Regions from separate parts of the Homo sapiens genome. Here region 1 is linked to region 2. Evidence: fine-mapped expression QTL. A gene starts in region 2. The other region holds a variant in brackets. All regions are shown on one strand. Distances are from middle to middle.

Region 1 (16,108 bases), 90 kb before region 2:
CTGGTGAGATTGATCTAGTAAAGAGAGAGAAAAAGCACAAATGGAGAATATGTCTAAAAATACGTAAAAGAGAGATTTTAAAAGATAATGAAATACTATGAAAAACTTCATGACAATAAATTTGACAGTTTAGACTACATGGAAAATTATATATGGAAAATTATATATTTTACAAAACTGGCTCAGAAAGAAACAGAAAACAAGAATAGTTCTAAAACGAAGAAAATTTGTCAGTAATTTAAAATATTTCCTCAAAGGAAAGAAAAAGATCTAGATAGAATTGTAAAAACTTACAGCAAATTTTCAAGAAACAGATAATTCCAATTTTATACAAGTGCTTCCGAAGAATTCCTGAGAGGAAATGTACCCGTTAATCTAATATAATTCCGATACCAAAACCAGACAGAAAATGAAAAAGGAAAGTTACAGGATAATCTTGCAAATAAATATATGTGCAAAAATCCTAAATATCGGAAAGCAAAACCTAGCTATATGTTCATGAAATATATCATTCATATATCGTATCGTAAACTATATCATATAATAAAATCCTTCATGGCCAATTTGGCTTATACCATGAACGTAAGATTAGCTTAACCTTTAAAAATCCTTTAATGTAAATTGTCACATTTTCAGATCAAAGGAAAAAAACTATATGATCTTGTCAATGGATGAAGAAAAGGCATTGGATAGAATTCAACATTCATTTGTAATTTGTTTTAAAAAACAGAGCACACTTAGCAAACTAGGAATAGGAGAAAAAAAATAGTTAACTTGATAAACGTGTCTACCTAAAACCTGTAACAGAAATCATAATTGCAGGTAAAATTTAGAAGTATTCCCTTTAGAGGAGGGAACAAAAGAAGGGTGCTCATTCTCACTTCTTCCATTCAAAATTGTACTGGATACCCCAGCCAATGCAATAATACGAGATGAATTAAACCAAGGTAGAATGATTAAAATATGGCAACAAAATGAATTATTTGCAATGAATGTGATTATTCACATAGAAACTGCAAAGACTCTATAAATTATTAGAATAAATTAGGCAATTTAGCAAGGTAATTGAATATAATAGTGATATAAAATTTAACTGTATTTATCTGCATCAACAACAAACAGAAATATAACATTTAAAATACTCAACAGGCCAGGCACAGTGTCTCACGCCTGTAATCCCAGTACTTTGGGAGGCCAAGACGGGCGGATCACTTGAGGTCAGGAGTTCGAGACCAGCCTGGCCAACACGGTGAAACTGCATCTCTACTAAAAATACAAAAATTAGCTGGGCTTGAACCCAGGAGGCAGAGGTTGCAGTGAGCCGAGATCATGCCACTGCACTCCAGCCTGGGTGACAGAGCGAGACTCCTTCTTAAAAAATAATAAATAATAAAATAAAATACTCAATGATGATGGCAAAATAAACTGGTAGCCAGAAATACAGATATTTTAAAAATAAGCAGAGCCTCAAGTGGAAAATTATACAACTATACAACTCCCTTGAAAGACATTAAAGACATATTTATATCAAGAAAGACATTTCTCCCCAAATTGATTATATAAATATTCAGGCAATTTCAAATGAAATTCTAATAAAGTTTTTTGTGAAACTTGAAAAGCTAATTCCAAAAGAGAAAAAAGCCAAAGACAGCCACGACATTTTTTGGAAAAGAAAAAGAAATCAAGACTTACCTTAGAAAACTATAGCAATTAAGATAGTACTTTATTGGTGCAAAAATATTAAAAATAGTTTAATTAAACAGAGTAGAGAGTGCAGACACAGTACTAGACATACGACAAAAGAAATATCACAGGTCACTAGGAAAAGTATACCCCTACTCTATAAACACCACTAGGACAATAAGCTATCTGTAAAAAAATTTTTTTTAATTTGATTTCTACTTCACACTATTAAAAAATACAGCTCCAAATGGATTAAAGACTTAAATGTGAGACCGGGCATGGTGGCTCACACCTGTAATCCCAGCATTTTGAGAGACCGAGGCAGGTGGATCACTTGAGGTCAGGAGTTCAAGACCAGCCTGGCCAACATGGCCAAACCCCATCTCTACTAAAAATACAACAATTAGCTGGGCTTGGTGGTGTGCACCTGTAATCCCAGCTACTCAGGAGACTGAGGCAGGAGAATCACTTGAACTCATGAGGCGGAGGATGTAGTGAGCTGAGATCACACTACTGCACTCCAGCCTGGATGATGAGACTCCGTCTCAAAAAAAAAAAAAAAAAAAAAGACTTAAATGTGAAAATAAAAGTCTAAATTTTTGAAGAAAATATGAATGACCTTGAGTTTAATAAAGGATTTCTAAACGAGTTATCATAAAGGAAAACTGAGTTCTATGCTCAGATATATTTGGCAATATAAAAACTTCTACTTACAACGTCATAAACAGGGGACTTCACTTCTGGTTCTGATGAACTAGCCTGTATCAGAATGTTCCTGGCAAAAGCAATTTGAAAAGATTAATAAATGCCCAAAAAATCTATCTGAAGGCATTGCAAAGATATCAAAGCAGCCAGGGCTTAAGAGGTTAAAGTTCTCTGAGCCCGCCGAGGTTAGTCTGACATTCTATGCCATCTTCTGCCAATTTGTCAATAGCACCAAGCTAAGAAACTGAGAAGAAAGTGGATATAAGAGGTTGAGCTGTTTAGCAAAGCTTTCCACCATCACAACAGTACTGGAGAAGCAAAATAAGAGCTCAGGATCTAACAAGGAGAAAGGTCACAGGTTGCATTAGTCTGTTTTCACACTGCTATAAAGAACTACCCGAGACCGGGTAATTTATAAAGGAAAGAGATTTAATTGATTCACAGTTCCGAGTGGCTGGGGAGGCCTCAGGAAACTTACAATCACGGTAGAAGGTAAAGGAGAAGCAAAGGCACATCTTACGTGGCAGCAGGAGAGAGAAGTGAGAGCACAGGAAAAACTGCTGCTTTTAAAACCATCAGATCTTGTGAGAATTTCCTCACTATCACAAGAACAGTATGGGGGAAACTGCCCCGTGATCCAATCACTTCCCCTCCTCCACACGTGAGGATTACAGTTCGAGATGGGATTTGGGTGGGGACACAGAGCCAAACCATATAACAGGAAAGCACACCCAGGCTTTCACTTGAATTTCAATGAAAGGGCTGTCCCTTTCACTGAAAAGGGCTATACGCCAAAAGTGAGGGCAAACCAGAAATAAGACGCCAAAAGTGAGGGCAAACCAGAAATAAGACAAACCTCATGAAGACTGAACCCAGTGATGTGCCAGAGCTGGCTCATATCAACTTCTGAGGAGCCAGTTGTTAAATTTACATTAATTCTGTGAACCACCTGTTAAATGCAGCCATTATTTAAAATGATTATATGAACTTACAATTAAATAAATTATATTTAAAACAAAGATGATGACCAGGCACTATGGCTCCTGCCTGTAATCCCACCACCTTGGGAGGCGAACGTGGGTGGATCGCTTGAGTTCTAGACCAGCCTGGCTGACATGGTGAAACTCTGTCTCTACTAAAAATACAAAAATTAACCAAGTGTGGTGACGCATACCTGTAATCCCAGCTACTCAGGAAGCGGAGGTGGGAGGATCACTTGAGCCTGGGAGGCAGAGTTTGCAGTGAGCTAAGATTGTGCCACTGCACTCCAGCCTGGGCAACAGAGTGAGACTCCCACTCAAAAATAAATAAATAAATAAATAAAACAAAGATAATAAAAATTCAATGTTTTCCAATTATTTTACAATATTTTATTATTATTGATGCTTCGAGGTTATTTCTTTCTATAGCATATATATGGTAGAAACACTATATAATGGTGTGCTAACTATACATCTCTTTCCAACATCACACTTAGTGACCTCAGGTTGGTGAGAATATTTACACCACAGAAATTGGTAACATTACAAATAAACCTTGATTAACTGTTTTGTTGATTGTCTAAGCCAGGGACCAGCAAATTGTTTCTGTAAAGGGCCAGACAATACATATTTGCAGTTTTTTAAGCCACATAGTCTCTGTCACAAGTATACAACTCTACCACTGCAGTACAAAAGCAGCCAAAAACAATATGTAAACAAATGGGTGCAGGCATATGGCAGGCAGATTTGACCCACAGCTGTAATTTGCCAACCCAGATCTAGACTTTTAAAAGTGATACATAAAATATTAACCACGTAGATTAAACTTAAAAGGAGTCATCACATTATGAATAACAAAAAAGAAGAAATACTCTTCCAGTATTGAAACTATTATCCAACTTAGCAAAAAAGTTGCTCATATCATTGACAAATAAGTGAAATTCCCATGTCTTCATTGTTTCATTTTTGCCTTTCTCATTAACCTAAACAAAAATATCAACTAACATTCATGTCAAAACTACACTCATTCATCAACGCAACCCTAGGTTGGCTAAAGATAAAAGAATTTGACAAAAATCAATAAGAATTCTGTGAGAACTGGGTATTTGAAATTTACTACTAAAATATTGTGTATTTTTAATTATTTGCAAGTTGAATGTTACATGTCCTTTATATCAGGAAATTTATAATAAATATATATGTAATTTATAATATATGCATGTATGTGTGTGCAGATATGCATATATAATAAATATTTATATATTAATAATACGTGTACATCACTACCCAGAGAAACCACTACAAAAACTATACAGAGAGATATTGAAAAATACTAGAAATAAATCAAAATGGAATCTCAAAAAGTATTCAAGTAACCTATAGGAAGGCAAGTAAAGAAAAACAGAGGAGGCTGGGCGCGATGGCTCACGCCTGTAATCCCAGCACTTTGGGAGGCTGAGGTGGGTGGATCACCTGAGGCCAGGAGTTCTAGACCAGCCTGGCCAACATGGTAAAACCCCGTCTCTACTAAAAATACAAAAATTAGCCGGGCATGGTGGCAGGCGCCTGTCCCAGCTACTCGAGAGGCTGAGGCAGGAGAATTTCTTGAACCTGGAAGGCAGAGGTTGCAGTGAGCCAAAATCGCGCCATCGCACTCCAGCCTGGGGAACAAGAGCAAGACTGGGAAGGAAAGGAAAAGGAAGGAGAGGAGAGGAGAGGAGGAAAGAAGGAAGGAAGGAAAGAAGGAAGGAAGGAAAGAAGGAAGGAAGGAAGGGAAAAGAAGAGGAAGCAAACACAACAAATAATAAAATGGCAGACTTAAGTTCTAGCATAGCAATAGATTAGGGCCCATCCCACTAACCTCATTTGAATGTAATTCCCTATTTAAGGGCCCTATCTCCAAATACAGTCACATTCTGGGATACAGAGACTAGGACTCCTACATATAAATTCTGGGGAGACACAGTTCAGCCCATAACGTAGGCATTAGATGACTATATGCTAAATAAATGAATGAATGAATGAATGAATGAATGAGTGAATGGTTGAAGCCTCCATTATAACATGTCTTTTGTGAAAGGAGATGTGAATCCCAGATGCCTGAGATGAGGATATGTGGGCTTTTTTTATTGTCCTGAACTCCTCCCATTAAACCAGTGAAGCAAAGTGTAGGGTATGGCCATTCCCAGTGGGACACCAGGGAGCCAAGCTAAGTGCCAATACAATCTACTTATTGCTAGTGCTCTGATATCTTCAATCTTCTAGCACTAAACATTGAGGTCAATTCTCCAAGTGCCAAGGAGCCTCCCCCAGTCAAATTCAGTCACCTTTTGAAACTAACCCTTACTGATCCCTAAATGTCAGAGAAGGCATTTAAGCACAGACAGCCACCACCCTAAGGAAGGCTTTCATTGTCGGGATATGTTGTAGAGAGTTTATCTAGTCCAAAACCTATGGCCATTTATTCTCAATTTTTCCATGTCAATACAACCACTGTGGCCAGAGTCCTAATTTCAAATACGTAGTTCCCTTGTCTTCCTATGCATACTTGCCCAAATCTGGACACCAGAATACTAAGCCCGGCCCCAATCTCTAAAAATGCCATTACCTATAGGCCGGGCATGGTGGCTCACACCTGTAATCCCAGCACTTTGGGAGGCCGAGGCAGGTGGATCACGAGGTCAGGGGATCGAGACCATCCTGGCTAACACGGTGAAACCCCGTCTCTACTAAAAATACAAAAAATCAGCCGGGCGTGGTGGTGGGCGCCTGTAGTCCCAGCTACTCAGGAGGCTGAGGCAGGGGAATGGCATGAACCCGGGAGGCGGAACTTGCAGTGAGCCGAGATTGCACCACTGCACTCCAGCCTGGGAGACAGAGCAAGACTCCACCTCAAAAAAAAAAAATGCCATTACCTATAAAAAAGAATGCTTTGAGGTTAATCATCTGAATGGTTCCTTCAAGTCCTAAGACTGCTTGTCTTTAGACACCCTGATTTCTTAATAAACAATGATGTCTTTGACATTTATATGTCACTTTATTCATTCTCTCATTCATTTGCTTGATATTAAGTGGGTGTTTACTACATGCCAGGCACTGTTCTAATTCCTGGGATACAATAGTAAAGGAAGGTTTCTGCTTTGTGAGGCTTACATATTAGTGAGGAAGACGGATGCTGGGTAAATAATAGCAGTGATGATGATGATGATGATGATGGTGATGATGATGATGATGATGATTGTTGATGATGAGGAGGATAATAGTTGGAAAAGATTATTTCAAACAATATTAAGTGCCTGGGAGGGAGATGATGTGATAGTGACTTAGTGGCCACATTAGCTCATGTGCTAACAGGAGGCTTAGCTGAGCAGGCAACATGGGAGCTGAGGCCTGAATATCAAAAAGGAGCCAACCACATAAAGATCAGAAGGATGGTATTCCAGATGGCGGAAAGAGCATATGCAAAGGCCCTGTGGTGGCAACAAGGGTATTTAGAGGAACAGAAGGAAAAAAAAAAAAAAAAAGACCAGTATGTCTCCCAATATCGAAAGTTCACTAAGTGTCCAGAATAATATTTTCTGTCTCATGGTTTAAGCTGAATTCTCCCAAATGTTTGGGAATTAGGAAAGGGCGTTCATTCTTGTAAACACATAACACCTTCTCCATTATTCTTTTCATGAGTTCAGGTTTTGATAGCAACTATTCTCAAGTTTCCACCCTCTAATTTGAAGCATCCCGATGGCTCTGGCTTACCTCATGCCACCTCAAATCCTCTTGATAAAAGTCACTTTGTCCTTTTAAAGCCTCCAACAACTAAGACTTACTGAGTGCTTATCACGTGCCAGGCACTGTGATAAGCAATTTACATGCACTGTCTCCTTTAATCATCACAACAACTGCATTAGAGTTGGCATTATTGTCCCCATTTTATAGGCAAGAAAACTGAGGCTCTCACAGACTGACTTGTCCGAGGTCACCCAAATGAGAAGCCAGGGGACGGGGATTTGACTTATCCAGGCATGTGCCCTGCCATTTTTGGCTACCATTATCCCAGACATGAGTAGGTGACCTTTGGCCTAAGTTAGTTTCTAAAATCATGGAGGATCCCAGAGAGTCCTCAGGCCTTTCTAAGGTAACTTACAATTCTGCTGATACTGTTCCTAAAAGCCATTTGGGACCAGACCCAGGTTGGCTCCATCTGAATCTCAAGGGAGGATTTTAATAAACAAAGATCCTAGGATTAGAACCCAGGCTAAAAATACATCTTCCCCTTTTGAAAAGCTCCCCCTGGTGACTTTGGTGAGCAGCCAGGAAGAGCACTGGCCCATCTAACCCGACCTCCCTAGCCTACACAACATCTTCAGAAAAACTTTCAGAGACCGGAATTCATCACATCCCAATTTTAGCCTTAATATTGGAAACTTCTTTCTTTGTTGCCTGAACTCTGCTGTTCTCAAACTTGGGCTGCCTAAAAAGAAACGGAAGTCATCCAAGGCCATAAGATTGAAAATTCTTATAAACAATTTCACATCCTATTTCCTGAAACTGATGTTTTGTTTTGGTTTTTGTAAGGAACACAAACCAACCAACCCAGCACCTCAGAGTGCGAGTCATAAAGAAACATACTTGTTGTCCCTCATCAGATTCACTGTGCAAAAAGATCAAAGAGACAGAAAGAACAGAGATGTGAAAAGGGAGGCTGGAGAAGGAGGTAGTTGACTATGATAGAAAGAAATGAGAGGGAGAATGGGTTAAATATTGGGATCTGTGGCTCTTTTAAAAACCCACTTTCAATCTTTCACAAAAGAACAAGAGAAAGAATCATCCCTTAGCAAAATCATGTCGAACCTTCCTTGGCCAAAAAGATGCAGGAAAGTTTTAATTCTTAATGCACAAAAATTCCCTAGGAGCCCAAGAAGAGCTTTCTTGCTGGATTGTGATAGAAAGCCCACTCCTTCATGTATAATTGAAGACATTTAGGATGACATTACAACCCCTCCTGCTTATACACGGATCTGCCTCCCATCCCTGGCTAATGTGCAGCGCTCCCAGGAAGCTCTCTTAAGCAATTAAAAATGGTCCATTCTGCTGCCGAGCAAGAGTCTGAGCTCATCCCAGCCTCTGCGTGATCGGCACAACACATTCAGGAATCATTCACTTCAAGCATGCTCATTCTTCAAACTGTTCCCAAACCACACTTGCTAAATATGTAGGTTAGGGTCATCTTTTTTCCCAAATAACACAAATAACAAAATGATTGTTTTTGATAAGCATTTCCTCTTAATTTGTCCAGTTGGTTTCTAATTTACCAAGTATAGGAAATAAAACTAGATTATGTGTGTTCCCTACCCTTCGGGAACAATTTGCTTCTGAAAGTTTAATGCTAGAATCCCCATCTTCCACGTAGGAAACCTAATTTAATTCATAGCAAATATTGCACCAGAGTGTTATTTT[G/A]CATTACAACTGTGATATACACCGTCTCCAAACAATGGGGGAGTGGGGAGGGAAGGCAGGAACAGTTACCTTTTTAGGTTGTATAGTTTAAAGTAGTTATTAAAAGTGTGGTCCACAGACCAGTGGCACCTGAGAGCTTGCAGAAATACAAAATGCTGCTTTAGAGCAGTGATGCCCAACAAGGGTGATTTTGCCCCTTAGGGGACATTGGGCAATGTCTGGAGACATATTTGGTTGTCTCAACTGAGGATGGGGGTGCTACTGACATGAAGTGGGTAGAGGCCAGGAATGCCACTCAGCCTCCTACAAGGCACAAGACAGGCCCCCACAATAAATAATTCTCCTGCCCCCAAATGTCAACAGTCTTGAGGTGGAGAAACCCTGATTTAGAGGAAAGTGAATGGGAAATCGTGGGGTGTGAGGGAAAGTGAATGGGAAATAGTGGGTTGGGAGTAGGGAGAGTAAAAAGAAATTGCTTCAACCTGCTAAATAATAGAAGTAATAGTGAGTCATGGAATTGGGCTGTGATCATGGAAGTTGTGTACCCATAAGGAAGTCACTTACCCTTTCTTGATTTCATTTTACACATTTATAAAATGAAGGGGAAAAATAAAATTGAGCCAAAAAGAATTACTATCTACAAGGTTCTTTTCGGGATAGACGCATTATAATTTAGGTAGTCTTTTGCAAACTTGAGTAATCTATAGATCACCTTCACTATGTTTTCCATATCTGAGTGCCATCTCTGTTAGTTAAGGTTTTACTTTAACTATTTTGTGTTTTTAAACTGTATTTTAAGAGAAAATTTTATGTCACTGCCATTAGTTTAAAGCCACTTCTACTTCACAAAACTGGAAGTAAACACAATTAATAGACATCCATGTTATTAAATTCTAGCTAGGTAACATTGTCCCCCAAGACTTTGAGACTCAGGCCAGCCCCCTCTTGATCAAAAGGAGATGAATGAAGGTTAGAAGGCTAAGGGTATATTTGCACCAACTTGAGACTTTCTGTACCACCTTAAATGGTCTTACATTCCATCAGTGGGATGCATCTACCCTTTGGAAAATCACGGTATGGAGATTGAGTGGGCAAACTTTGGAACAGATCCATTTGGGTCCAAGACTCAGCTCCACCATTCATTGGCTGTTGGATATTAGGCAAGTGATTTAACCTTGGTAAGCCCCAGTTTCTCATTGGGAGTTAGTAATAGAACAGCCACTGAGATGGCCCCAGTGATCCCCACCTTCAGACATTCATGCCCTTGCATAATCCCCTTCCCTTGAGTCCCCTTGAGGGTGTGCTGGACTTAGCACTTACTGATTTGCTTGTAACCAATAGAATACAGCAATAATGATGGGATGCCACTTCTGAAATTAGGTTGCGAAAGAATCTCTCTCTCTCTCTCTTTCACTCCTCTCTCTCTGTCTGCTCTGGTTCTCCAAAAACAAGCTGCCATGCTGTGAGTACCCTTATAGAGGCCCACATAGCAAGGAATTAAAGTCTCCAGCCAAAAGTCACCAAGAACATGAGGCCAACCACAGCTATGTGAGTAAGCTTGGATGTGGATCTGCCACCCACACCACCCAATCAAGCTTTGCAATGGCTGCAGCTCCAGCCTTGCGAGAGATCCTGAGTCAGAGATATCGATCTAAGCTGTGCCCAGATTTCTGACTCACAGAAACTATGAGATATTACCTACATGTGAGATGATACATATTTGTTGTTTCAAGCTGCTAAGTTTGGGGATAATTGGTTATGCAGCAATAGATAACTAATGTAGCTACTGTGAAGGTTATACAAGATAATGGCCCCCCATTCAAAGGAAAAGTCATACTGGAAACACTATTATACAATGTGGAGAAAATCCACAATAGCTGCTAGTATTAATCAATGAATTCCACTATGAATATGAATGGACAACCAAGGATCCTCAGACATTTGTGAACTAAGATGAACAAATAACACAACTGAACTTCAACCAAAAAAAGAGAAGCTATAAAAGAAAAAAAATAATGTTTTTCTTTGAGACAGGGTCTCATCTTGCTGCCCAGGATGGAGTACAGTGGCTCAATCATGGCTCATGATAGCCTCGACCTCCTGGGCTCAACTGATCCTCCCATCTCAGCCTCCCAAGTAGCTGGGACTACAGCTGCACCACCATGCCCAGCTAATTTTTAATTTTTTTGTAGAGACAGGGTCTCACTATGTTGCCCAAGCTGGTCTTAAACTCCTGGGATCAAGTGATCATCTCACCTCACCCTCCCAAAGTGCTAGGATTACAGGCATGAGCCACCACACCCAGCCAAGAAAATTTTTTTTAATTATAGTTAGTAGTGTCTTCAGAGAAAACCAAGAAGATATTCTTTTTGTTTTTGTTTTTGTTTTTGTTTTTGAGATGGAGTCTCATTCTGTCATTCTGTTGCCCAGGCTGGAGTGCAGTGGTGTGATCTCAGCTCACTGCAAGCTCCACCTCCCAGGTTCATGGCATCCTCCCGCCTCAGCCTCCCGAGTAGCTGGGACTACAGGCGCCCGCCACCATGTCTGGCTAATTTTTTATTATTTTTAGTAGAGACGGGGTTTCACCGTGTTAGCCAGAATTGTCTCGACCTCCTGACCTCGTGATCAGCCTGCCTCAGCCTCCCAAAGTGCTGGGATTATAGACGTGAGCCACTGCGCCCGGCCAAGATATTCATTTTAAAATAATAATTAGTGTTGACAATTATAAGGTCTACAGAAAAGACATTATCAGAAAATAGGAAGGCCCTCTAAAAAATTAAAAGTCATACTACCTAAATTTTTAATTTGGTGCACAGCCTGGAAAATTGTCAAGAACCTAAGGGGAAAAGACATGCAAAATATAAACACTAAGAGACACAAAAGACAATCCAGCAGATTCAAAATTTATTTAATAAGAGACCCAGAAAAAGAGGAACAGAAAATAGAAGTGATAAAAATAATTACCAAATAATAGAATAATTCTCAACTCATGCAGAAAAGATAACAAAATCCAACAGTTATAAATAATTTTTACATTAATAAGCTAATGGAAACTTTCTTAATATGATTTTTAAAAAGCCAAAACAACTACAACAACTGATTATAAGACCTCACTCTGAATCACCTAGGTTTACTTATGTCTATTCTGGCCAAATGTGAATGATATTCATGTAAAGCTATATTTTAAAATTATAACAAAACTTCAATTAAAAAGTAAATTAACATTTTCTTTAAAAATCTATCACAAATAGATTTACTGGTGAAACTTTAGAAGCATCCTCATTAAAGTCAGTAACAAGAAAATAATATTTGCTTAACATTATAAAAATTATAATTAAGAAGAATAAATGATGTTTAAGAATAGGAAAAGAAGCTTCTTCAACCAATATGATTAGCTATACAGAAAATGTAAGAGAATCTATAGACAAACTGTTAGAACCAATAAGCGTATCCAGAATATCAACATACAAATATCAGTATAATTTCTACATTCTAAGAACTACCAGTTAGAAAATGTAATAGAAAAAAAAAATCCCACTTAAACAGCAAGAAAAACTATAATGACTATAATTATGAAGAAAATTATGAAACATTATTGAAATACATAGATGAAGCCTTGAATACATACAGACAAATTTGGGAAGACTTAATAACTTTTCCATTTTTTTTCCATCCATGGAATACACGTTTGTGCTTCACGAAACTTATTTAAAGACAATATGAATTGTCTATGCTAGTTTTTTAAATAAAAGCAATGGGGAACAACACACACTGGGGCCTAGAGGTGGGGGTGGGAGGGTGGGGGTTTTGGGGTGGGGGGAGGGAGAGCATCAGGAAGAACAGCTAATATACACTGGGCTTAATACCTGGGTCATGGGTTGATCTGTGCAGCAAACCACTGTGACAGATGTTTACCTATGTAACAAACCTGCACATCCTGCACATGTACCCCTAAACTTAAAAGTTGAAGAAGAAAAGTAGGGTTCACCCTATCAGATATTAATACATCATACAAATGCATAGCAATAAAAAAAACATGCAGTAGTGGTGTGGGAAGTGGCTACTAGAGCCATGTATAATCATGGATGGTTTGGAGGAAACTATTAGGTTGGTTCAAAAGTAATTGTGGTTTTTGCCATTGAAAGTAATGCGAAACTGCAATTACTTTTGTTCCAACCTAATAACTCATTGTTTGAACAAAACTGAAAGTGGATCCCTGACTCACACCTTTACAAAGATGAGCTCCAAATTCCTTGAGGATGTAAATGTAAAATGTGAAACCAGAAATCTAATAGAAGCAATTGTCAGAGAATATTTTTGTGACTTCTAAATGAAGAATGACTTATTAAATAAAATTTAAAACCTATACCATAGGTGGAAAACTGGTGGTACATCAAAATTAAGGTTCCCTGTTTAAAGAAATATCACATAGTTAACAGATAAATGATAGCCTGAAAGAAGGTATTTGCAACATATAAAAAACTGCACATTCTGCACATGTAACCCAGAACTTAAAGTATAACAAAAAAAATTAAAAAAAACAAGAAATTAACATCTAGAAAATAAAAGAAACAAAATCAACAAGAAAAGAAGAAAGCCCCAATAGAAATAGAAAAATTCAGAAGAATATATTGACAGAGAATTTACATATAGGGAAATCTGAATGGCTGAAAAGTAAATGAATAAATGTTCAATCTCACTAGTAATCAAAGAAATGCAAATTAAAACAATTAGATACTGATTTACTCCCATAAGACTGGCAAAAGCTGGAAAGCAAGCTAATAACAGGAATCTCCATGCATTCTGATGGGCATGTAAACAAGTACAGTCATTCTAGAAAACAATCCATCAATAGTTAGTGAAAGAAAATCTGTGTATACCCTAGGACTTAGCAACCCTGCCCCTGAACATATGTACTCTATAGAAACTCTCACACAGAACTCTAACGTGGCATTTATAAGAATGTGAATTGCAACAGTGTTTGTGCTATAGGGAGCTAAAGACCACTAGATGTCCATTACTGAAGAAATGTAACAGCAAGTTGTAATAGATGCGTGCTTTGAAATACTATGCAACTGTTAAAAGGAATTAACTAGATGTACATATAGCAGCAAAAATACATCTGAAAATCATATTGCTTTTAAAAGGTAAGAAACAATGGTCTCTGTTACAAAACATTTTTTGTATCATTTAAGCACATATACACATAAAATAATGTATTGTGATACACATGTAACCAGATACATACACCAAAGACATTTAAGTGGGTGCCTGAGATTGGGGTATGGAGGGGATAAAAAGAATCAAGCAAAAAACAAGGCCAGAGCCTTGAATGGACCAATGACAGTATGTAAAATGAAGTGAGGAATACCATTAACTAGCCCTTTGCACCTGAGATTAAAAAAAAATGCATGTCACAAAGAAGAACAAAGGGCCAAGAATAGCGAAAAGGATACGAAGAAAGCAAGCATGAGGTTGGATTTGTCCTAGCAAATATCAAGGCTTTTAGTAAAGCTATAGAAATTAAGACAGGAGTGCAATAAAATCAAGTCTCAGGATGACACGTATGCAGTGGGCATGAAAAAAATGGTCTAAATTAGATCACAATGTTAGAGAACTCTAAAAACAAAATAGATAAATTATATATTTACAAATAATCTAGATTAACTTGATGAAATTGAATGGCATATAATAGAAATAACAATAGCTATATGGTTACAATATGCTGTATCCTCTTGATATGGTTTGGCTGTGTCCCCACCCAAATCTCATCTTGAATTGTAGCTCCCATAATTCCCATCTGTATGGGAGGGACCTGGTGGGAGTTAACTGAATCATGGGGGCAGTTTCCCCCATAATGTTCTTGTGGTAGTGAATAAGTCTCACGAGATCTGATGGCTTTATAAGGGGTTTCCCCTCTTACTTGGCTCTCATTCTGTCTTGCATGTCACCATGTAAGATGTGGCTTTCGCCTTCCACCATGATTGTGAGGCCTCTCCAGCCACATGGAACTGTGAGTCCATTAAACCTGTTTTTCTTTATAAATCAGCCAGTCTCAGGTATGTCTTTATCAGCAGCATGAAAATGAACTAATACACTTCTGCCCTCCCAATGATCCTTCCTCCCAATTTTTATTAATTATATTCTCCTCTAAAAGACTCAACTGTAATGAAATAGGATTAGGTCCTTCTCTATAAATTTAATCATGCTACTTGATTCTGCAGTAAATCATACTTAGGTAACACTATTGAAACTATCCATTGGTGATACCACCTTTGGACAAAGCCCAAAAGAATTACATTCTCTATATCATAGAAAACAAAATTTACATGTTGTAAACCTTGACAATGCACAAATAATGTCAGAGAACAATTAGGGGGTAAAGAGATTTGTGTGTCATATTTAGAGAAGCAGTTGACAGGTGTATAAGGCACAAGCTCTGAGAGGAAAGTTGATGCTTTATGGAAAGTGCCCATCATCATTTTGACCAGTGGAAGATGGTGTAAGAAATTAGAGGCAAAGAGAGAGGGCAGAAAGGTGAGGCTTCAGGGAACCAAAGAGCAAAGCCAGCCAGAAAGGATGAAAGACTACGCTCTTCCCTGTGGTTACAGGATAGCAGAGATCCAGCCCAAAAGGGCTCCTCGACTTCATATGACTCCAAGATTAGGTGCTTTTGCTCTGAAATATTTCAGAAACCGTAAGAGTGAGTGTGGGAAGAAAAAACGTTCCACCTTCTTCAACTCTGAAGCACTAAAATCCATTGTGAAAGCCCCATTTTTAGGGCAACTGCAATTTAGTCATTCACAAGGCAACTCACTTTACAGTTAGTCCACTTGAGGTTCTGAATTAAAGGATGCCACAGCCACTTCCAGAAATGCCTGTGGAATTACACCTTATTGGAGGGGATATGTCTAGTTGACATCAATTCCGCTTTCCCTAAGATATATGTGCATGTCTTATGCATCGTTAAGCACGTTCTCACTTCAAAACCTCTGGTCATTCTATTCCTCCTAACAGGCTTAAAACCCTACTTTTCACATGCCTTCTTCTTTTCATGCCACAGATCTCTGGTTAAATGTTAACATCTTAGTGAGGTCTTCCCTTACCATTCTATCTAAGTACCTTGCTACTGTCATCTGTCTCAGGCTGTCAGTCCACTAATCTTAGTTGAACACCTACTATGTGCCAGGCACTGTTCAGTCTTAGGACATACAACTGTGACCAGATAAAAACCCCATCCTTGAGGAGCATTTTGAAATTACTTGTTTGTACATCTTGAAATAACT
Region 2 (11,855 bases):
AAAAAAGAAAAGAAAAAACAAACATGGATTCGTAGTTAGAAAATTTTTTATTTTTTTAATTTTTATTTTTTAAAATATAATAAAGATGGGGTCTCGACAGCTTGCTCAGGCTGGTCTTAAACTCCCGGACTCAAGCTATCCTCCCGCCTCGGCCTCCCAAGCTGCTGAGAGCCACTGCATCTAGCCTAGAAAATTTAATAGATATTAAAACAATTGAACACCTAGTTTGTTCTCCCTCTCTGAATGACCATTCCAGCTTTATACTTATAATCTAGATCAGCCCAATCCATTGGCCCACCCAAAATGATTTCATCCCTCACTCAATGATCTGTCCGTGGTGGCTAAAATGTTGACATCTGTCTGGTTGCCTGCATTTGAATGCTGGTTTCATGACTTTCTAGTTGTGTGACCTCGAATAAGTCACTTCATCTCTCTGAGCCTCATTTTCTCCTGAAAAATGCAAGTGGTAATAATAGTAGATCCCTCAAAGGACTGTTGGTGGCATTACATGAGTTCATACATCAAACACAATGCCGAGTGCATAATAAGGATTGATAAACAACTTTCACTTTAACACCTACAATCTCCAAATCTCAACTTGATTGTCACTTCCTTCAGCAAGCCTCCTCTGACCTCAGGACTTGGTCACATCCTTCTCACTAGGTCACACTTCTCCTTCTTAGCGTTTGTCACAGAAGACTGTTGGATGATTGTTCGATTAATTTCTCTCTTCCCTACTAGATCGTAAACACTCAGGACAGAGCCTGGGTTTGATTTTGCCCACAATTCTCTCCCCAGTGTCTACCACAGTGCCCGGTGGATAGGAGTTTTTGCCATGAAAAAGTTATTGATAAAGAAATGAATTAATGCAATTAGAAAACTGAAGGCCTCTGAAAAAATCAATATTAACTAGAACAAGTGCCATGAACTAGTTAGGTTCTGATGGGCTAGATGACATGAGTCATGAGACACTTACAGGGAAGGACAGGGTGCGGAGAGGTTTATTTTGTAAGACAGTTGCAGAAAATAAATTGGAAAAAAGATAAACTGTACACCTCTACCATTTGTTCTAGGACTAACCCTATTTTCTTTGAGGTAAAATTCATACAACATAAATGTTAATTTTAAAGTAGACATTTTTAAGTGAACAATTCATAGGCATTTAGTACATTGACAATGTTGTGGAACCACCATCTATGCCAAGTCTTAAAACATTTTCATCATTCCAAAAGAAAGCCCTCATTCCCTCTTCCGCCAAGCCCGTGGTCACCACCAGTCTGCTTTCTATTGACATGGATATATCTATTCTGTATATTTCATATAAATGGAATCATATAATATATGACCTTTTGTGTCTGGCTTATTTCACTTAGCATAATGTTAATATTTTTGAGGTCATCCACATTGTAACATGTAACAGTACTTTATTCCTTTTTGTGATAGAAGAATATTCCACTGTATGAACATACCACAATTTGTTTATAATTCATTTTGTTATTGTTGTTACAGAGTCTTTCTCTGTCGCCCAGGCTGGGGTGCAGTGGCACAATCTCAGCTCACTGCAACCTTCGCCTCCCAGGCTGAAGCAAGTCTCATGCCTCAGCCTCCCAATAAACTGGGATTACAGGTGTGCGCCACTACAACCAGCTAATTTTTTGTATTTTTAGTACAGATGGAGTTTCACCATGTTAGCCAGGCCGGTCTCGAACTCCTGGCCCCAAGTTGATCTACCCACCTCGGCCTCCCAAAGTGCTAGGATTACAGGTATGAGCCACTGTGCCAGCCTACAAACTCATCTCTTGGTGGACATTTGGATTCTTTCCACCTTCTGTCTATTATGATAATGCTGCCGATCCCTGTTTTTTAAAAGTCTCCATGGTTCATCATATCAAGAAGAATGATAATCTCACAGTACCCTGGACCAGAAACCAAGACATAAGATCCAAATTATGATCTATGACCACTAACTTTTTCTATAATTCAGCAAGCTATTGTCCCTCCTCATCTGTAACCTATGTGGTTGAACTAGGATTTTCATGCAATTAGTGTGTCTTGGGAGGTGTTTCTGAGTATTTATTTGGAAGGTGCTCCTAAAAAGAGATAAAGAAAAGGAAAGGAAGATAATCAATGAATTCCTTGATCCAATTACTGCTGTGGACATCTAGGGTGCATTTCCACTGGGGACCTCTGAGACACGGTAGGGAATATATCTTAGTTATACGAGAGCTAAAAAGAAATTATTTAGACAGTTAGTGAGGGTAAGAGAGTCCTCAGTAAGGTTTTTCTTTTAATAAAAACGCAGTCTCCAAATCATTTCTTTTTTTAACAAAAAGCAGCCTGAAAAATCAAGCTGCAAGCATAGATAAGCAAGCTAGAGGCTTGCATAGGTAAATACCAGCAGCTGTGCCAATAGAAAACAGATAGCTGGAAACCAGGTATATTCAACATGGAGGTTCCCTCTTCCCTTTTCTTTGTTGCCACGTGTGCAGATAACATGGCACCAGCCAGGTTTTTTAAAATTCCATTTGCATAATAAAAGATTAGAGTGGGATGACCAGCCTCTTCACGGGCTATGAAAATGGCACATCTGGTCCAACCAATCCACTACACCCCATGTAAATCATATACCATCTCCTCACGCTCATCCCTAAAACCAACCACACCTTGCCCCAAACCAGGGAAACCCACTCAGGACCCCTTCTTCTGCATGAGGAAGCTCTCTTCCTTCTTTCATCTATTTAACTTTCCACTCTTAAACCCACTCCTTGCATGGCCATGTCTTCAATTTCCTTAGCATGAGACATCGAACCTCGGGTGTTACCCCAGAAAAATGACGCTGCTTCATTAGAGTTAGCACATCCAAGGGGCAAGGGAACTGGCTCCTCTGTGGTTGGCTGAGGGCTTCTCTCAGGGTGTCTTCTCTGGTCCCCTTGGGTTCCCACTTGTGTCGACAAAGCTTTCTCCAGAAGGCCCTCAGAGTTGCACCTGCTCACAGTTAGGAAGTTTGGGGCATGCGCAGAAGGGCACATGCAGATGGGGTATGATGGTCCCAACAGCATATGTTAAAGTGATTATGAAACTTTGATATTCAAATCCCTGGGAGCTTACATTTTAAAGAGATGAGACAGAGACAGACTTCCTCTCATTGTTTTCACCTCCGTTGGATCTTTGCCTGGATACTGCTTTAGTTTGTCACTTGTCCTCTAGAAAAGGGGTAGAAAGTGTACATCCTTTTCTCCTCCATTCCTTCAAAGCTCTTAAAAGAGGATAGAGATGCCAGGTGCAGTGGCTCACACCTGTAATCCCAGCACTTTGGGAGGCCGAGGAGGGTGGATCACCTGAGGTCAGGAGTTTGAGACCAGCCTGGCCAACATGGTGAAACCCCGTCTCTACTAAAAATACAAAAAGTAGCCAGGCGTGGTGGGGTGCGCCTGTGGTCCCAGCTACTTGGGAGGCTGAGGCAGAAGAATCGCTTGAACCCGGGAGACGGAGGTTGCAGTGAGCCGACATTGCACCACTGCACTCCAGCCTGAGTGAAAAGAGTGAAACTCCATCTCAAAAAAAAAAAAAAAGAGGATAGACTTGAGGTGAACTTTATTAAGAACATTGTGTTACCTTGAACTGGGCACTTCTCCCTTCTAGGTTTCAGCTTACCCTGTGAGTGAAGCTATTTATTTAAAAAAAACTTTATTGAAAATAAAATAAAGATACAGGAAACTACACAAAAGAAATGTATGGCTTAGTAAGTTACTACAAGGCAAACATGTTAATAATTACCAACCCAGGTCAAGAAACAGAATTTTCTCAGACAACCTAAAAGTCACAAAATGAGGCTATTTGCCAATTAAGGTTGTAGACCAAATGCTGTAGAATGAACTTCTTTTAATTCTATGTTGATGACTCTCTGTCACAATATTCACATCTCAGTGCAAAGAGAACACAAGAATGTCTAGCAAGAAAAGATGGACAAGTTTCTCAAACATTGGCAGTGTTACTTACATTGGCTAGGCAAAATTCAGAAGGCCTGGTGGAAATCTGGTTAAGCCCTAAAAGTAAGCTTGTAATTCTATCCTAGCAGCCCACACACATTTGAGTCTGTCTTAGTCAGCTCAGACTGCTATAACAAATCATCAACTGGGTGGCTTAAACAACAGAGATTTACTTCTCCCAGGTCCGAAAGCTGGAAGTCTAATATCAGTGATATAATTTGGATACTTTTCCCCCTAAATCTTACACTGAAATGTAATCCCATGTTGGAGGTGAGGCCTCCAACATGGTGGGAGGTGACTGCATCATGGAGGTGGACTTCTCATGAATAGTGTAGCACCATCGTCTTGGTGCTGCCCTCACAAGATCTGGTTGTTTAAAAGCGTGCGGCACCTCCTCCCACTTTTTTTCTTACTCCCACTCTTGCCATGTGATACATCAATACATCGGCTCCCCCTTGGCTTCCTGAGGCCTCACCAGAAGCAAGCAGATACCCAGAGCCATGCTTGCTGTACAGCCTACAGAACCATAAGCCAAGTAAACCTCTTTTCTTTATAACTTACTCAACCTCAAATATTTCTTTATAGCAATACAAGAATGGCCTAATACAATCAGGGTGCCAGGATGGTTGATGTGTGGTGAGGGCTCTTTCCCTGAGTTGCAGATGGCCGCCTTCTTGCTTTGTCATCACATGGCCTTTCCATTGAGCATGGGCGTGAATAGACAGCATGCGAGCAAGCTCTCCAGCGTCTCTTCTTCCCATAAGTACCCTGATCTCATCATGGGGGCCCCACTCTCATGAGCTCATCTAACCCTAATTACCCCTTGAAGGCCCCACCTCCAAACATTATAAAATTGGGAGTGGGAGTGCAAATGTATGAATTTTGGGGGGATACAATTTAGTCTACAGCATAGTCCAAATGTGAAATTTCTTCCTCCAGCTACCGATGTTTAGTGAGAACACTGCCTGTTCTCACCACATGTGCATATGTGTGTGGACTCTTTCCTCTGGAGGGCAAGAACTTGGTTTTGTTCACTGTTGTAACCAAGAGTTACAACAGTGCCTGGCTCATAATTGGCACTCAATATTGCCATTGAGTTATTTGTGATCAGAGCCCTGGCTGTTCTTAGATGGGGAGGGTTCTTCAGAACAGTACAAATGTTTGTAGACAGGCCAGCTGGGGAACCAAAGGTCTTTTTGATGAGGTGCCATGACCATGATGTAGTGGGGAGTGGCCAGGTGATCCAGAATTCAGTCTCAGTATGACCTATGATCATCTGAGTGACCTCAGGCAAAACTGTTCGATCTCTGGGACTTAGACTCTTCCTTATATAAAACAAATGGGTTGGTCAGTTCAGAAGTGCTATACTGATTCTAATCCATCCTATGGAGGAGGCCCCAAAACATTATCCTTAACCCTTTTAATCATAAATTTAAGGATAAATGAGATTTTATCTCACTCTGGGTGACTTTTAAGGACTTGAAAACCTACTTCTTTTTGTGCTTGGAGCTGGAGTGAATTTGAAGCCAGGGTTGCGGGGGTGGGGGAGGGGTACTCCTAGCTGTGGCTGTGTTAAAATTGCCCTGGTTTGTTTGGGGGAGAATCTAGGGTATTTATCATTTGTCTTTGCCCTGGTGCCAGACAGACAGCAGTGAGTAGATGATGCCTTTTACACAGCAATGTGCTAACAGTTATACTTCCTGGCACACCTCCAGCCCCCAAGATGGAATGGTCTGACATCCATATCAGCAGAGAATCAGAGAAAGATGAGACGCTCTGATGCTTAGGAAAGTCACAAACCATTGTTACACAGATAAGTAACACAAAATGACCCAAGAGAGACACAGCTGGGACCCAAGTAGACACTTGTAATTGGCGAGTCTACCCTACCCATGATTTTCAATATGGGGTCAATAGCTGATAGATACCAATGTTAGTTTCTTTGTCATGAAATCTTGATACAATGTGGTAAGAGTTTCCAATCAGCAGTTGGTGGCATCCTCAGGATATTGTTGATTGTATTTGACATCAAGGGCCACCCATGCTTTCACTGTTATCTTATTCAAGCTAGTGCAGATGTCTTAAAACTTTCTTCATGCATCAAAGCATCTGCATAGCTCAGATAAAGAATCCACAGCTCATGTGTTCTTTCTTATCTCTCCGGCTGTTTGGGAGAGATTTCAAAACTCAACACCCCACTGTCTCATGTAACCAAGTCAGGGCCACTATTAGAAAAGCAGCTCAAAGAAGATATCCTGGGTCATCCACAGTATCTTAGCTTATTTAATTCAGCAAGCACATTCAACATTTCTGATTATACTGAATACATTCAAATTCTCAGTCATCAGCTTCAGGAAGACCCTCCTGGCTCCCATCCCTTTTCCTGGCTCCCATCCCTTTTCCTGGCCTGGCTTAAGTCCCTTCTGGGCTCCCACAGGATCCCTTACCTAGCTATATTATTGCTTTTCTGTGGGTCGGTGCCAGCCTGTACTGTATTAATTCCTTTGGGGCTGGAACCATATCTTATTTTTTTAAATTAAAAAGTAGTACATCCTCACAATAGAAAACTTTTCAAATACAGAACTATATAAATGAAAAGTGAAAGTCCCTTTTCTGTCTGCTCCTATTTGCAATCTCCCTCCTCTCCCCACAGAAGACCACTATTAACAATGTGTTGTATACCCTTCCAGAACTTTCCATTTGCTAGCCTAATAGTGCTAATAAAAGTGTTAACAGTTATTGAGTGTTTACTAAGAGTCAAGTGCTATGCTCAGCATTTTTATGCACGTTCCCAATTAATTCACAAAACAAGCCTATGAAGTAGGTGTTATTTTTGTTCCCATTTCACAAAAGAAGAGACTAAGGTGACAGTTACTAAATGGTAAAGCCAGAATCTGAACATGGCCAGGCTGAATTCAGAGCTCCTGCCCTTGAACTTGTTCTCTCACTTGCTTCCGGACCTTGCAATATCATAGACACTTCCCCATAGTGACCTAAAAATGGTTTCTCCCTTTTTAAAAGTTGCTTGGTATTCTACAAAATGAATGTATTCCATTCATTTTGCCATTCTCCTACTGAACAACTTTTAGGATTTTGTAGTTTTTCATTTCCTTATTTCACCAAGTGTAAGATTCCATTATTGTAAAAAGCATCCAGTTTCAGAAATTAAAATATATGGGGGCATGGGGGGTGACAAGTGCATCTTAGAATATATTTTTGCATGTAAATATTTTGTAGATAATGCTTGTAAATAATTTTCATGTGTGTATTTCTGCACAAGTTTCCTAGGAGTAAAATTGTGTGTCAAAATGAAGGTGCATTTTTAAATTTTGATGCATACTGCTGAATTCCCCCCAGGAAACCTTATCTTAGTCATCTTGTGTTCCTCATTTCCTTAGCACAATGTCTGGTACTTTTTTAGGTACTAAATAAATGTTCAGTGGGTGAAATGCATGACCTGACCCGGCAAATGCAAAGTATTTTGAGATATTCACACACCAAAAAACCCACAAAATATGACAATGACTGACAATGAGAAGATGAGAATATTTTACTACCGTATTTGTATGCACTTCTTGTTGAAGCACTGACCAGAGTAAATGACAAACGCTAATGCATCTTATGCAGAAGGATGTTTCCGAAGTGATTACAAGATATCTTGCAAAATTACCTATCAAAAGATTGCACACTCAATAAAAATACACGAATAACTCCAGCATTTTACAACCCCCAACCTACTAGACATAAGAAATTTCCAGAGATCTTATGGTCTGCCATTTTTTCAAATACCTGCAAGACTGCCTGCACCCCCGACCCTAATCTGTAGAAATCATGATTCTGCAGGTCTGCAGTGGGGGATGCATTTAACAAGCGCTCCAGGTTAACCTAATGCACTGTAAAGCGTGAGAACACGTGCATTAAAAGGGCTTTAAGAAGTGGAGTTTCTGAATCAGATTTGCATTTTAGAAAGATCCCTCTGGCTGCAGAGTGTAGAATCAACTATAAGTGAGCAAAGATAGCTAAATGGCATTATTCAGCCCAGCGCATGAACGGCTCAGATTGCCCGCGCGCTGGGGTGCCCCCTGCCGGCCCTCGGCAGCGCCTCGTCCTGGGCCTGGCCCTGGGCGGCCGGCTGCTGACTGCGACTGCGCGCTCCGAGGCCTGCAGAGACGGCCCGGGGCACCTGTTACCGCACCGCTCAAGACCGGAAGCGGAAATGGAATCGAGATAGCCTCGCGCGTTTAGCTGGCCGCCGCCACCTCCACGCCCTAGGCCGGGCCGACTTACGGAGTCGCCGGAAGCGGAAGTCGCTGAGGGGTGGTGAAGCGGTTGGGAAAGTGTCGGTTTATCTTCGCGCCCCTTGCGTTCTTGCCGCGGCTTGCCTGGGCAGGTAAAGCGCGATTGCGAGAGCTCGGCAACCCTGCCGACTCAGCCGGAACCGGCTCCCGGCCCGAGGGGCGTGGTGTCCTGGTGCTCCGACTCCTTCCGCAGGCTCCTTGGGACCCGCGGTTCCGGGAGTCCCTTGCTCAGGGTCCCTTTCCTGCAGTGAGGCGCCGTCCGCCTTCCCTGTGTCCCCGCAGACCCCCATCATGGGCAATACCAGCAGTGAGCGCGCCGCGCTGGAGCGGCATGGTGGCCATAAGACGCCCCGGAGGGACAGCTCGGGGGGCACCAAGGACGGGGACAGGCCCAAGATCCTGATGGACAGCCCCGAAGACGCCGACCTCTTCCACTCCGAGGAAATCAAGGTGCGAGCGGTGTGGAGGAACCCGATTCCCCTTGACTAATGTTGAGGAGAGGAACCCTCCACTAGATTCCCGTCACATCCTTTCGAAAAACACCAGAACGGAGAGGGAGGTGGTACATTACCCGGTGCACTTAAAAGCCAGATGGTCCTGTAAGAGTTCTCTTAGCGGTCCAAGAACCTGTGTCTAATTACCAATATGAGAAAGTCACCCTGAGGGAGGAGGTGCTCACTTGGTTTAACATCATTAAGGAGAAAGCAGCTCTGGGACAGAGTTTCAAATTCTTAATTAATTCAGAGTCGAGCTAACAGTAATTGAGCCCCAGCTTCTGCTTTTCTCTTAGGTGTAATTAATTGCACTGCTTTGAGACAAATTCCCTCACCTTTACACAAACTGGAGCTTTTGTAAAAGTTAGTTTGGGAATTTATCCATTTTGGAGGCAAACCAGGTACATATACAAGCTGAAAGTAGAGCGGAACAGCTGACGGCAGTTGCCAGAGGTGTTTAGTTCTGCCCAACACTTTTGATTCACCCTACTTATTTTTTAAAAGACGGTGGTCTCACTAATTAGCCGGGCGTGGTGGCGGGCGCCTGTGGTCCCAGCTACTCGGGAGGCTGAGGCAGGAGAATGGCGTGAACCCGGGAGGCGCAGCTTGCAGTGAGCCGAGGTCGCGCCACTGCACTCCAGCCTGGGCGACAGAGCTAGACTTCGTCTCAAAAAAAAAATATAAATAAAAATAAAAAAGACGGTGGTCTCACAATGTTCTCCAGGCTGGTCTCGAACTCCCGGGTTCAAGCAATCTTTATGCCTTGGCCTCCCAAAGTGCTGGGATCGCAGGCGTGAGCTACGGTGCTGGCCGGTTCAGCCTACTTTTTTTTTTTTTTGAGACCGAGTCTCGCTCTGTCGCCCAGGCTGGAGTGCAGTGGCGCGATCTCGGCTCACTGCAAGCTCCGCCTCCTAGGTTCACGCCATTCTCCTGCCTCAGCCTCCCGAGTAGCTGGGACGACAGGCACCCGCCACCACGCCCGGCTAATTTTTTATATTTTTAGTAGAGACGGGGTTTCACCGTGTTAGCCAGGATGGTCTCCATCTCCTGACCTCAGGAGATCCGCCTGCCTCGGCCTCCCAAAGTGCTGGGATTACAGGCGTGAGCCACTGAACCCACCCTACTTATTTTTTTTTTTTCCTTCTTTGAGATGGAGTCTCACTCTGTTGCCCAGGCTGGAGGGCAGTAGCACAATCTCGGGGCACTGCAACCTTCGTCTCCCGGACTCAAACCATCCTGCCTCAGCCTCCCGAGTAGCTGGGACTACAGGCGTGTGCCACCATGCCTGGCTAATTTTGTGTATTTTTGGTAGAGGTGGGGTTTCGCCATGTTGCCCAGGTTGGTCTTGAACTCCTGACCTCAAGTGATCCGCCCGCCTGGGCCGCCCAAAGTGCTGCGATTACAGGCATGAGCCACCACTCCCGGCCTCACCCTGCTTTTTTTTAAAGCGTACATAGAAAAGTCTTTCAGCTTCTAGAGGTCAGTGGGCGGTGAGGGTCTGTCTGAAGGAGGCAGCCAGCAGCTACTGAACTTCTCTCTAGTGTTGTTTAAATATGACTTAATCGTGCTTAAGCAGGCCAGTGCAAACATTTTTCTTCCTGCTGCAGCCTGTTTAAATTCAAAAACTCAGGTGACTTAACTCCTGCTTCAACCACACTCCTGTTAACCACCTTCATATGGTGGATATTTCCAGCCGCAGGGCTCAGTCCAAGGACACTTAGTGATTCTGGCAGCTGGTATTTATGTGTTATGTCCAAAAGGAACTAATTGTTTCAAGGAACAAAGTAGGTTTAGGAAAGATAAAGCTGCCCTCTGCCCAACATACCCTGTTAGTATCCAATTTCATGTTAATCATCATCCATTTAATTGCTTGGCAGCTCATTCCATCTGTGTTTGTCCTCATGTTGAGCGAGGTGATCACATCTCACACCTTCTTTTGGATCTTAGTTTTGAGCCTGACTACAAAGAGGCTGCTTTTATGTGGCCCTACAACCTGTGGTTTGAACTTGCTCTCTGAATTTGTTGCATTCTTGAAGAGCTGTGTGCAAAGTGAACTTTAGAATCATGTTTCTCTAATGACTTGACGTCCTTTCCCCAGGAGGTAATTTTGGTCCCTGGTCCCAAGAAGGCTATTTAAGACACCAAAGGAATCAAAACTACTTTCTTCAGAAGTATTTGTTCTGTTACTATTCCAAAACTCCTCCAGGAAATGTTGAGCACACACATCATCTATGGGGAATGATTTCAAGCAGCGTCCATTCTCACTTCATTAGAAGTTACTGAAATCCCCAGATACCAAAAAAGTCGTGAATTCTTTTAACTACACTAGGGTGCTATTTTGGTCATAATTAGTTATCCTTAGTGTGAAGTGATTCCAGTCTGTTATTTAATATGTAGATCTTGTTAGAATTCAAAGAATACAGGCATCATTTGGATAAGCTGAGGTCGGTATTTGAGATGAAGGTGCTAGAAGCCTGCTTAACTCCCTGAAGAGTCTTTTCCAGCCTGAACCTTCTGCTCTTTTTAAGTCTTTGGCTTCTGACTGGGAAAAAATCTAAAAGGTGCATGACTACATATGTCATCCAGATAGATTTGGATGAGTTTATTTCTTATTCTGGAATACCTCAGTTATACGGAGCTTACCACACTGGAGGTTATCATTTATCCTAATGAGGGTTCAGTCTTTGTCTTGCTTTATTCCCCAGTCCCTAGACAGAACTTTGTGAGTAGTTTTTCCCTTCCTCAAAATCTGGATTTGCCTATTTTCAAGTTGACAGCTCTAGAATTGTTCCTCTTAAATTTTCATGTACAGTCATACATCACTTAATGACAGGGACATATTCTGAGAAATACATCATTAGGTGATTTTATCATTGTGTGAACATCATAGAGTGTACTTACACAAACCTAGTCTGTTCTCATGCTACTATGTAGAAATACCCGAGACTGGGTAATTTATAAAGAAAAGAGGTTTAATTGACTCAGTTCCGCATGGCTGGGGAGGCCTTAGGAAACTTACAATCATGGTAAAAGGCACCTCTTCACAGGACGGCAGAAGAGAATGAGAGCAAGCA

What was found.
Region 1: its variant is fine-mapped to the expression of PRKAB1 in whole blood (INTERVAL, PIP above 0.99).

Annotation. Positions count from the first base shown.
Region 1 is chr12:119,567,870-119,583,977 of GRCh38, forward strand. The region is part of intron 1 of PRKAB1-AS1 (PRKAB1, TMEM233 and CCDC60 antisense RNA 1); the gene reads right to left. Among named protein-coding and RNA genes, the nearest start is that of TMEM233, 18 kb to the right of the region's middle. The variant G/A (reference allele first, on the strand shown) is at 8,823.
Region 2 is chr12:119,659,667-119,671,521 of GRCh38, forward strand. It overlaps PRKAB1 (protein kinase AMP-activated non-catalytic subunit beta 1), which reads left to right and starts at 8,467. Exons shown (of 7, transcript NM_006253.5): 1 at 8,467-8,737. The coding sequence starts at 8,579. PRKAB1-AS1 (PRKAB1, TMEM233 and CCDC60 antisense RNA 1) reads right to left here and starts at 8,461. Exons shown (of 3, transcript NR_188494.1): 1 at 8,277-8,461. RefSeq lists enhancers at 6,035-6,179, 8,314-8,723, 9,162-9,797, a cis regulatory region at 6,099-6,116 and a silencer at 7,944-8,213.